3 separate regions of the Homo sapiens genome follow, and regions 1 and 3 are each linked to region 2. Evidence: fine-mapped expression QTL. A gene starts in region 2. Each other region holds a variant in brackets. All regions are shown on one strand. Distances are between the middles of the regions. Region 1 overlaps INIP (INTS3 and NABP interacting protein). Region 2 holds the start of INIP (INTS3 and NABP interacting protein). Region 3 has its middle 11 kb from the start of SNX30-DT.

Region 1 (2,764 bases), 34 kb before region 2:
CAAACCTGCTTTCCTCCTGCCTCTGTGCAGGTGTTTCCTTTGCTTTGAATGTTGCTCTTTTTTTTTTTTTTTTTTTTTTTTTTTTTGAGACGGAGTCTGGCTCTGTCTCCCAGGCTGGAGTCCAGTGGCTCGATCTCAGCTCACTGCAAGCTCCGCCTCCCGGGTTCCCGCATTCTCCTGCCTCAGCCTCCCGAGTAGCTGGGACTACAGGCACCCACCACCGCACCCAGCTATTTTTTTTTTTTTTTTTTTTGTATTTTTTAGTAGAGACGGGGTTTCACCGTGTTAGCCAGGATGGTCTCGATCTCCTGACCTCGTGATCTGCCCGCCTTGGCCTCCCAAAGTGCTGGGATTACAGGCGTGAGCCACCGCGCCTGGCTGAATGTTGCTCTCTTTCCTGGCTGAAACCGTCTCATCTTGAAAGCCAAGTTCCAATGCTTGTTCTGATGTAGCTTTTATTGGTCCTTTCGGGCTCCTGTCCCCATTCTCTCCTCTCCAGGCTGCTCCTAGGATTGGTTTTTAGTGTGCTTGTCTCAACCAATCTAGATTGTCAGACTCTTGAGGACAGTGACTGTCCTCCTTCTCTTCCTCATTGTCCATGTTCATTATTTGCACATTTTTAAAAAGCCTGTGGCCAGCCAGGTGCGGTGGCTCAGACCTGTAATCCCAGCACTTTGGGAGGCCGAAGCAGGTGGATCACTTAAGGCCAGGAGTTGGAGAAGCAGCCTGGCCAACATGGCAAAACCCCGTCTCTACTAAAAACATAAAAAATTAGCTGGGCGTGGTGGCGCACACCTGTAATTCCAGCTACTCAGGAGGCTGTAGCATGGGAATCACTTGAAACTGGGAGGCAGAGGTTGCAGTGAGCTGAGATGCTGCCATTGCACTCCAGTCTGGGCAACAAGAGTGAGACCCTGTTAAAAAAAAAAAAAGCCTGTGGCTGAGCATGGTGGCACACACCTATAGTCACAGCTACTTGGGAGGCTGAGGTGGGAGGATCACTTGAGCCCAGTGTCCAGCCTGGGCAACACAGTGAGACCCCATCTCTTTAAAAAAGAATCGTGGGTATCAACTGTGTAGAAGTCACCATGGATATAGAGGTGAATAAGAAAAGCACTCAGCAAATACTTGTTGCATTTATTGCTGTTGAAATGGGACTTGTGCTCGCTGATGGGATTCCAATAGAGGGGTTCAACTGCACTAATGAATTGATACTCTCTCTCATTATCTTCTATTCTCCATGTAACCATATTTTCCAAATCCTTTGCCTCAAGAGGCTTTAAACACATGTAAAGGCTGAGGTTCTGTTGCCGAAGTGAAGCAAATAACTGAGACAACTTAATGAGACAGTTTATAGATTGTTCAGGAAAACAAATATGCCTTTGAAATCACTAAGTCATTTCAGTTTTTATTCCAGGG[T/TCATA]CAAAGCACTGACATCTGCATTATTTAGAAGCGGCTTTCAAAACTTTTTTTGCCATAACTCACAGTAAAAAAAAATACATTTTATATTGCAACTCAAGTCTATAAATTCTTTCATTCCTTCAACATATTGAACACCTACTATATGCCAAATATATTTTATGTGGAATACAGTAGTGAACGAAGTAAAAGAGGAAGAAAGGAAAGGAGGAAGAGAAAGAAATAAACAAAAATTCTTGCTCTCTAAGACTTTACATACTAGTGGAACAGACAATAGACAAAATAAGTAAGCCAGATGCAGTGGCTCACACCTGTAATCTCAGCACTTTAGGAGGCCAAGGTGGGAGGATCGAGAGGACTGCTTGAGGCCAAGAGTTCAAGACCAGCCTGGGCAACATAGCAAGATGCTGTCTCTACAAAAATTAAAAAAAAAAAAAAATTAGCTGGGCATGGTGGCATGTGCCTGTAGTCTCAGCTACTTGGGAGGCTAAGGGTTGAGGATTGCTTGAGCCCAGGGATTCAAGGAGTCTTGCAGTGAGCTATGATTATACCACTGCACTCCAGCCTGGATGACAGAGCAGGACTGTCTCTTAAAAAACCAACACAATACAAAGTAAAATATAGGAACACACAGAAACAGAATATTCATGAGGCAAAACCACCTATTTCTATATGCAGTACACTCAGATGTTTTTGATTTTTTCGGAAAAAATGCTGGTCAATCCTGTTAAACCATTAAGTTGGCTTCTCAACTCAGTAATGGGTTGAGGCTTTTGCACTTTGAAAAACACTAGTCTAGACAATTTCTGACATGGGCAGAGCATGTGCTTGTTCTCACCTTATGGAGGGAGGAACATACAAAGATATTAACTGAGTTCCTCAAATTCACCCATGATCTGAGGGAAGCAATGCTGACCTCCACCTGAGGGCTTCCCAGTCCACTGCTGCCCTTTCCCTCACCCTCTGCAGTGCCTGCTCTTCTCCTCTCATTCTGAAACCTTGCTCTGCACGTGGAGCAGCTCTTCCTTCCCTTGTCAGGTAAAAATCACATGAATACTTCTAAGCCTAGCCAGACCGCACTGCGTTCCAGGATGCCTCTCTCAGGCCACTACTGCATTCTGGCTCGCTTGATTGATTGATTTAGAGACAGGGTCTCACTCTGTTGCCAAGTTGTGCAATCATGGCCCACTGCAGCCTCAACCTCCCAGGCTCAAGCAATCCTCCCACCTCAGCCTCCCGAGTGGCTGGGACTCTATGCATGCACCAGCACACCTAGCCAATCTTTTTTTTTTTTTTTTAATTTTTTAGTAGAGACAGGGGTCTCACTATGTTGCCTAGGCTGTGGCTT
Region 2 (2,764 bases):
ATGTGTACACACATATACAATGCACCATATTTTAATCACAAACTAAAAGGAACAGCTAGCCTCCTTACAATGAAATGTTTGCTGTTTCTTAATCTCTTCAGAAAGATACATTTGTGCCGGGCGCGGTGGCTCACGCCTGTAATCCCAGCACTTTGGGAGGCCGAGGCGGGCGGATCACGAGGTCAGCAGATCGAGACCATCCTGGCTAACATGGTGAAACCCAGTCTCTACTAAAAATAAAATTAAAAAAAAAAATCAGCCGGGTGTGGTGGCAAGCGCCTGCAGTCCCAGCTACTCGGGAGGGCGAGACGGGAGAATCACTTGAACCCGGGTGGCGGAGGTTGCAGTGAGCCGAGATCGCGCCACTGCACTCCAGTTTGGGCCACAGAGCGAGACAGCGAGACTCGGTCTCAAAAAAAAAAAAAAAGAAAAGAAAGAAAGATACATTTGAAATGTACACAGACTGAAACAAATGTAAACTCTGCTAGTGCCTCAAGCATTTAATTAAATACGGCATTGTTTATTCTTGCAGATGTTCATACCATTTAGCATTACTGTCTTTAATAAACGTCATTAGGTTGTATTTACCAAATATATCAACCAATTGATAGAGTCAATATAATCATGGTGCTAGGAAGAAAAATCATTCATCTATGGTGTCTCTGCATTCGTCTAAAACACATACCCAAAAACTACTGTGTACACTGAAAGCTAAAAAAGGTAAAGGAGTACTGTATCTGCTCTGCACCATACACTGTGTAACATGCTCGAAATTAGTTCCTTTATTTATTTATCACCATTTTATAGATGAGGAAACCGTACCCAGGGTCATAGAGCTAGTAGGAATTATTTGGGCTGCTGGTTTCCAAACTTCGTGCTTTCGTACTAAATCCTGGGGAGATCCAAGATGAGCAAGACCCTAATCCTGCTTTCAGAAGGGAAAATAAAGTCTTATTCAAGCAACCATACTATTAATTAAAAAAAAAAAAAGCTTAACAAACCCGCTCTTTAAAAGGTGGGCACAGTGCCGGAGGCAAAGAATTGATTTCATTGGCAGCAAAGAGTGATGCCTTAGTCTAGGGAGCCCGGGAAAGACACAAGGGATAGAAAACAGACACCGGTTTTTAGTAAATGAATCGTTAGGTGTCTCCAGCGGCTGAAACACAGAGCGAGCAATGCGGGGTTAGGACTGGAGGACAACAGGGCCATCTTGTGACAGGGTAGACTGGCGTGCCAGAAAGGTCCCTGCCTACGGATGTGCAGAGCCGGCTGGGCCCGGGCTGTGAACGAGACGAAGGAAGCAAGTAGGAGCCAGAAATGTTAGGTGGCAAGGTCGGAAGGGAGGTCGCTGCCTGTAGCAACAAAGACGGCGGCGACAGGTTAGCACCGGAGCCACACTTTTCTATTGCCCGGTGCCTCCAGACTGTCGTACTTACCTGGGACCCGAGGACACCGGGACCGCCTCTCCTTACAATCGCTGCTCTTAAAGGGGGCGCGACCACTTAGGCAAGAGGAGCTCAACTCGCGGCACTACAACCTTCCCGCCCCCGCTGCGCTTCCGCCTCCTGACTGACGTGCGCCCCAGGGAGCGGAAACCCCGCCTCCCGCCGGGACCCAACGGCCACCGCCCGTCGTGATTCGCACTTTAGCGGCCACCTCAGTGCAGACGTCACTTTTTTTTCCAAAGAGTGACAGTCGAAGAGGCTCACGGGAGATGCAAACGGTACTTTTGGGGGCTGGGCCAGGGTGGGGCGTGGCCCGGGGCGGGGGAGGGGCGGGGCTGCCAGGCAGGGGCGGGACGGAGAACACCTGGGTCCCTAGCACCAAGACTGGCTTTTTATTCATTGCCACCGCCTGGCCGGTCTTGCGACGGTGCGAGTCCACCTCGGCTGGGCCTCGGAGGAGGGGCGACTCTAGAAGCTAAACTCGCTTTCGAGCTTTAACAACCATCTCGGATTGCGCATCCGCACACACACACACACACACACACACACACACACAAATTCAGGAATATTTTTTGTCTACAGTTTACATAATTATACACAATGAAAGCACTGAATATGGAGGATTTTTATTACAGTGCAATAATCTGCATTTAAGAAGTGGATGTGCCACATCGCAGAACACCAAGTTGCCACTAGTGGGATCACCTGCTGCCCACCTGATTCCAGCACAGTAGATAGCTACACATTTGAATTAAAAGGTAATCGTATATTGACATGTGTTCAAATTGCACTCTTTTTAATTTAAAAAAATATTTTTTATGGTGACAGTGTCTCGCTTTGTTGCCCAGGCTGGTCTTGAACTCCTGGCCTCAAGGGATCTGCCCACCTCAGCCTCCCAAAGTGCTGGGATTACAGGCGTGAGCCACCTGCCCTGCTTAAAATTGCAGTGTCTTAATCTCTTCCGAAAGATACATTTGAAAAACGCACAGACTTAAATCACAAATGTAAGCTCCCCAAGCGCCTCAAGCATTTAATTAAATAGAATGGATAATGAATTTGAACATATGTTTTTAATAATTGATGTTTGCTCAAGAGTAAAATGTTTATGATGCACAATTTTCTTGTGCATGGATCAATGACTGAAATAATCGTTTCAATATCAAGTATTTATTTACTGAAAACCAAGCATGTATTTACTCTATACCAAGCAGCTATTGAGTGCCTTCTACAATGCGAGGTGCTTCCTGTGCATCAGCTCTGGTCCTGCTGTTCCCTGATTTATATTTGAGACTCATGTTTCTTGCTCTATGTCAAGTAGC
Region 3 (2,764 bases), 22 kb after region 2:
TTTGTATTTTCAGTAGGGATGGGGTTTCACCGTGTTAGCCAGGATGATCTCGATCTCCTGACCTTGTGATCTGCCTGCCTCAGCCTCCCAAAGTGCTGGGATTACAGGCGTGAGCCACTGTGCCTGGGCCTAGATTTTTTTTTTCTTTCTTTCTTTTAGGTGGAACTTACCTGAAACAGAATAAGAATTCCTGGGTTTGTAGGCCAAAAATCTGTAACAGTACTATAAATAGCAAGAATGTCCGGTGGTAAGCCTGCTGAGGTATCAGGGGGCATTTTCGTACATTACCAACAACAAATTTGAAGTTGAAAAAAAGTTTTGTAAACTACTAATAATAAAAAAGCAAAGCAAATTTCAATCAGCCATGCTAGAAGAAAGACTTCATTATCTTTCTATTCTCTTTGGAATACTATAAAATAGTTGTCATATGAAGAATTTAGTAAAGAATATGCATTCAAAGACTATGGAAAATAGTATGATAGAGGTGTGCCAGGCAGCTAATAATTTTAATACGTTTGTGATGTTTGCGGTATTTATCAGTTTTGTAAAATTTATAATTGTGGCGATTTATTTTCCAAATTAATATTCAGCTTTGTATCAGGGTTTTTTGTTTGTTTGTTTCTTTGTTTTTTGAGATAGGGTCTCTCTCTGCCTCCCAAGCTGGAGTGCAGTGGCATGATCATAGCTCACTGTAGCCTTGAACTCCTGGGTCAAGTCATCCTCCCACTTCAGCCTCCTGAGTAGATGGAACTACAGGTGTGCATCACCATGCCCAGCTAATTTTTAAAATTTTTCGTAAAGACAAGGTCTCATTATATTGCCCACGCTGGTCTCCAACTCTTGGGCTCAAGCAATCCTCCTGCCTCGGCCTATGAAAGTGCTGGGATTACAGATATGAGCCACAGTGCCTGGCCTTGTACTAATTTTTATATTTGAAATTTTGAATTCTTTTTCTTGAGGAAGGCCCCCCAAATTGTTTAAATCTCATAAAGCATGATTCCTTACCTTTTATTGGTCTTTTAACATTTGCTGGTAGGACAAGCAAAAATTGTATCTTTTTGTTTTCATCAACATTTTATTGATCTCTAGTGAGACTGAATACATATTTTGATAATTTGTATTTTTTGGGCCGGGCGCGGTGGCTCACGCCTGTAATCCCAGCACTTTGGGAGGCCAAGGCGGGCGGATCACGAGGTCAGGAGATC[A/G]AGACCATCCTGGCTAACACGGTGAAACCCCGTCTCTACTAAAAATACAAAAAAAAAATTAGCCGGGCGTGATGGCGGGTGCCTGTAGTCCCAGCTACTCAGGAGGCTGAGGCAGGAGAATGGTGTGAACCCGGGAGGTGGAGCTTGCAGTGAGCCGAGATCGCACCACTGCACTCCAGCCTGGGCGACAGAGCGAGACTCCGTCTCAAAAAAAAAAAAGAAAGATATTAATACCTTGTGAGTCATTTGTGTTCCAAATAACTTTCTCCAGATTATCATTCATCTTTTCTTGTAACAGCTTTATTGATGTCTAATTCATTATGCCATATCGGGGAGGGGAGTAACTTTACAGTGGAGAAACCTGGCAAACACTACCTTGACCAGGCAATTAAGTTTAACACCCTCAGTGATAAGCCATGTTGACAGTATGTGCCCTTGATATGATGATCTAGTTTGGATGTTTGTCCCCTCCAATCTCATATTGAAATGTGATCCCCAGTGTTGGAGGTGGCGCCTTGTTGGAGGTGTTTGGGTCATGGGGGTGGATCCCTTATGAATGGCTTGGTACTTTCCCCATGGTAATGAGTGAGTTCTCACTCTGTTAGTTCACAAGACAGGTGGTTGTTGTTGTTGTTTTTGAGACAGGGTCTCACTCTGTCACCCAGGCAGGAGTGCAGTGGTGCAATCTCAGCTCACTGCAGCCTCCACTTCCTGGGTTCAAATGATTCTCATGCCTCAGCCTCCTGAGTAGCTGGGATTACAGGCATGCACCACCACGCCCAGCTAATTTTTGTATTTTTAGTAGAGATGAGGTTTCACCATGTTGGCCAGGCTGGTCTCCAACTCCTGGCCTCAGGTGATCTGCCTGCCTTGGCCTCCGAAAGTATTGGGATTACAGGCATGAGCCACCACACCTGGCAAGAGAGCTGGTTGTTTAAATGAGCCTGGGACCTCCTCCTCTCTCTTGCTTCCTCTCTTGCCACGTAATAGGCTGGCTTCTCCTTTGCCTTCTGTCATGACTTTATAAGCTTCCTGAGGCCTCACTAGAAGCAGATGTTGGCACTGTGCTTCTTGTACAGCCTGCAAACTGTGAGCCAAATAAACCTCTTTTCTTTATAAATTATCCAGTCTCAAGTATTCCTTTACAGCAATGCAACACAGATTAACATATATGATGTGATTAGAATGGCACTTTACTGGCCGGGTGTGGTGGCTCACACCTGGAATCCCAGCACTTTGGGAGGCCGAGGCAGGTGGAGCACCTGAGGTCAGGAGTTTGAGACCAGCCTGGCCAACATAGTGAAACTCCATCTCTACTAAAAATACAAATAATTAGCCAGGCATGGTGGTGCATGCCTGTAATCCCAGCTACTCTGGAGGCCAAGGCAGGAGAATTGCTTGAGCCCGGGAGGTGGAGGTTGCAGTGAGCCGAGATTGTGCCATTGCACTCCAGCCTGGGCAACAAGAGCAAAACTCCATCTCAAAAAAAAAAAAAAAAAAAAAAAAGGCACCTTACCTCGATAGTCTTCCTCCCAAAAACCCCTGAACTCCACGTTATC

The links.
Region 1: its variant is fine-mapped to the expression of INIP in whole blood (TOPMed, PIP above 0.99). The same link has a PIP of 0.9 or more in fibroblasts, lung, lymphoblastoid cells and monocytes after interferon gamma.
Region 3: its variant is fine-mapped to the expression of INIP in blood mononuclear cells (TOPMed, PIP above 0.99). The same link has a PIP of 0.9 or more in whole blood.

The regions. Positions count from the first base shown.
Region 1 is chr9:112,682,549-112,685,312 of GRCh38, forward strand. It overlaps INIP (INTS3 and NABP interacting protein), which reads right to left. Exons shown (of 5, transcript NM_021218.3): 5 at 1,378-2,764. Among named protein-coding and RNA genes, the nearest start is that of INIP, 34 kb to the right of the region's middle. The variant T/TCATA (reference allele first, on the strand shown) is at 1,420.
Region 2 is chr9:112,716,551-112,719,314 of GRCh38, forward strand. INIP (INTS3 and NABP interacting protein) reads right to left here and starts at 1,567. Exons shown (of 5, transcript NM_021218.3): 1 at 1,437-1,567. RefSeq lists an enhancer at 1,149-1,248 and a silencer at 1,619-1,778.
Region 3 is chr9:112,738,280-112,741,043 of GRCh38, forward strand. No RefSeq gene overlaps it. Among named protein-coding and RNA genes, the nearest start is that of SNX30-DT, 11 kb to the right of the region's middle. The variant A/G (reference allele first, on the strand shown) is at 1,206.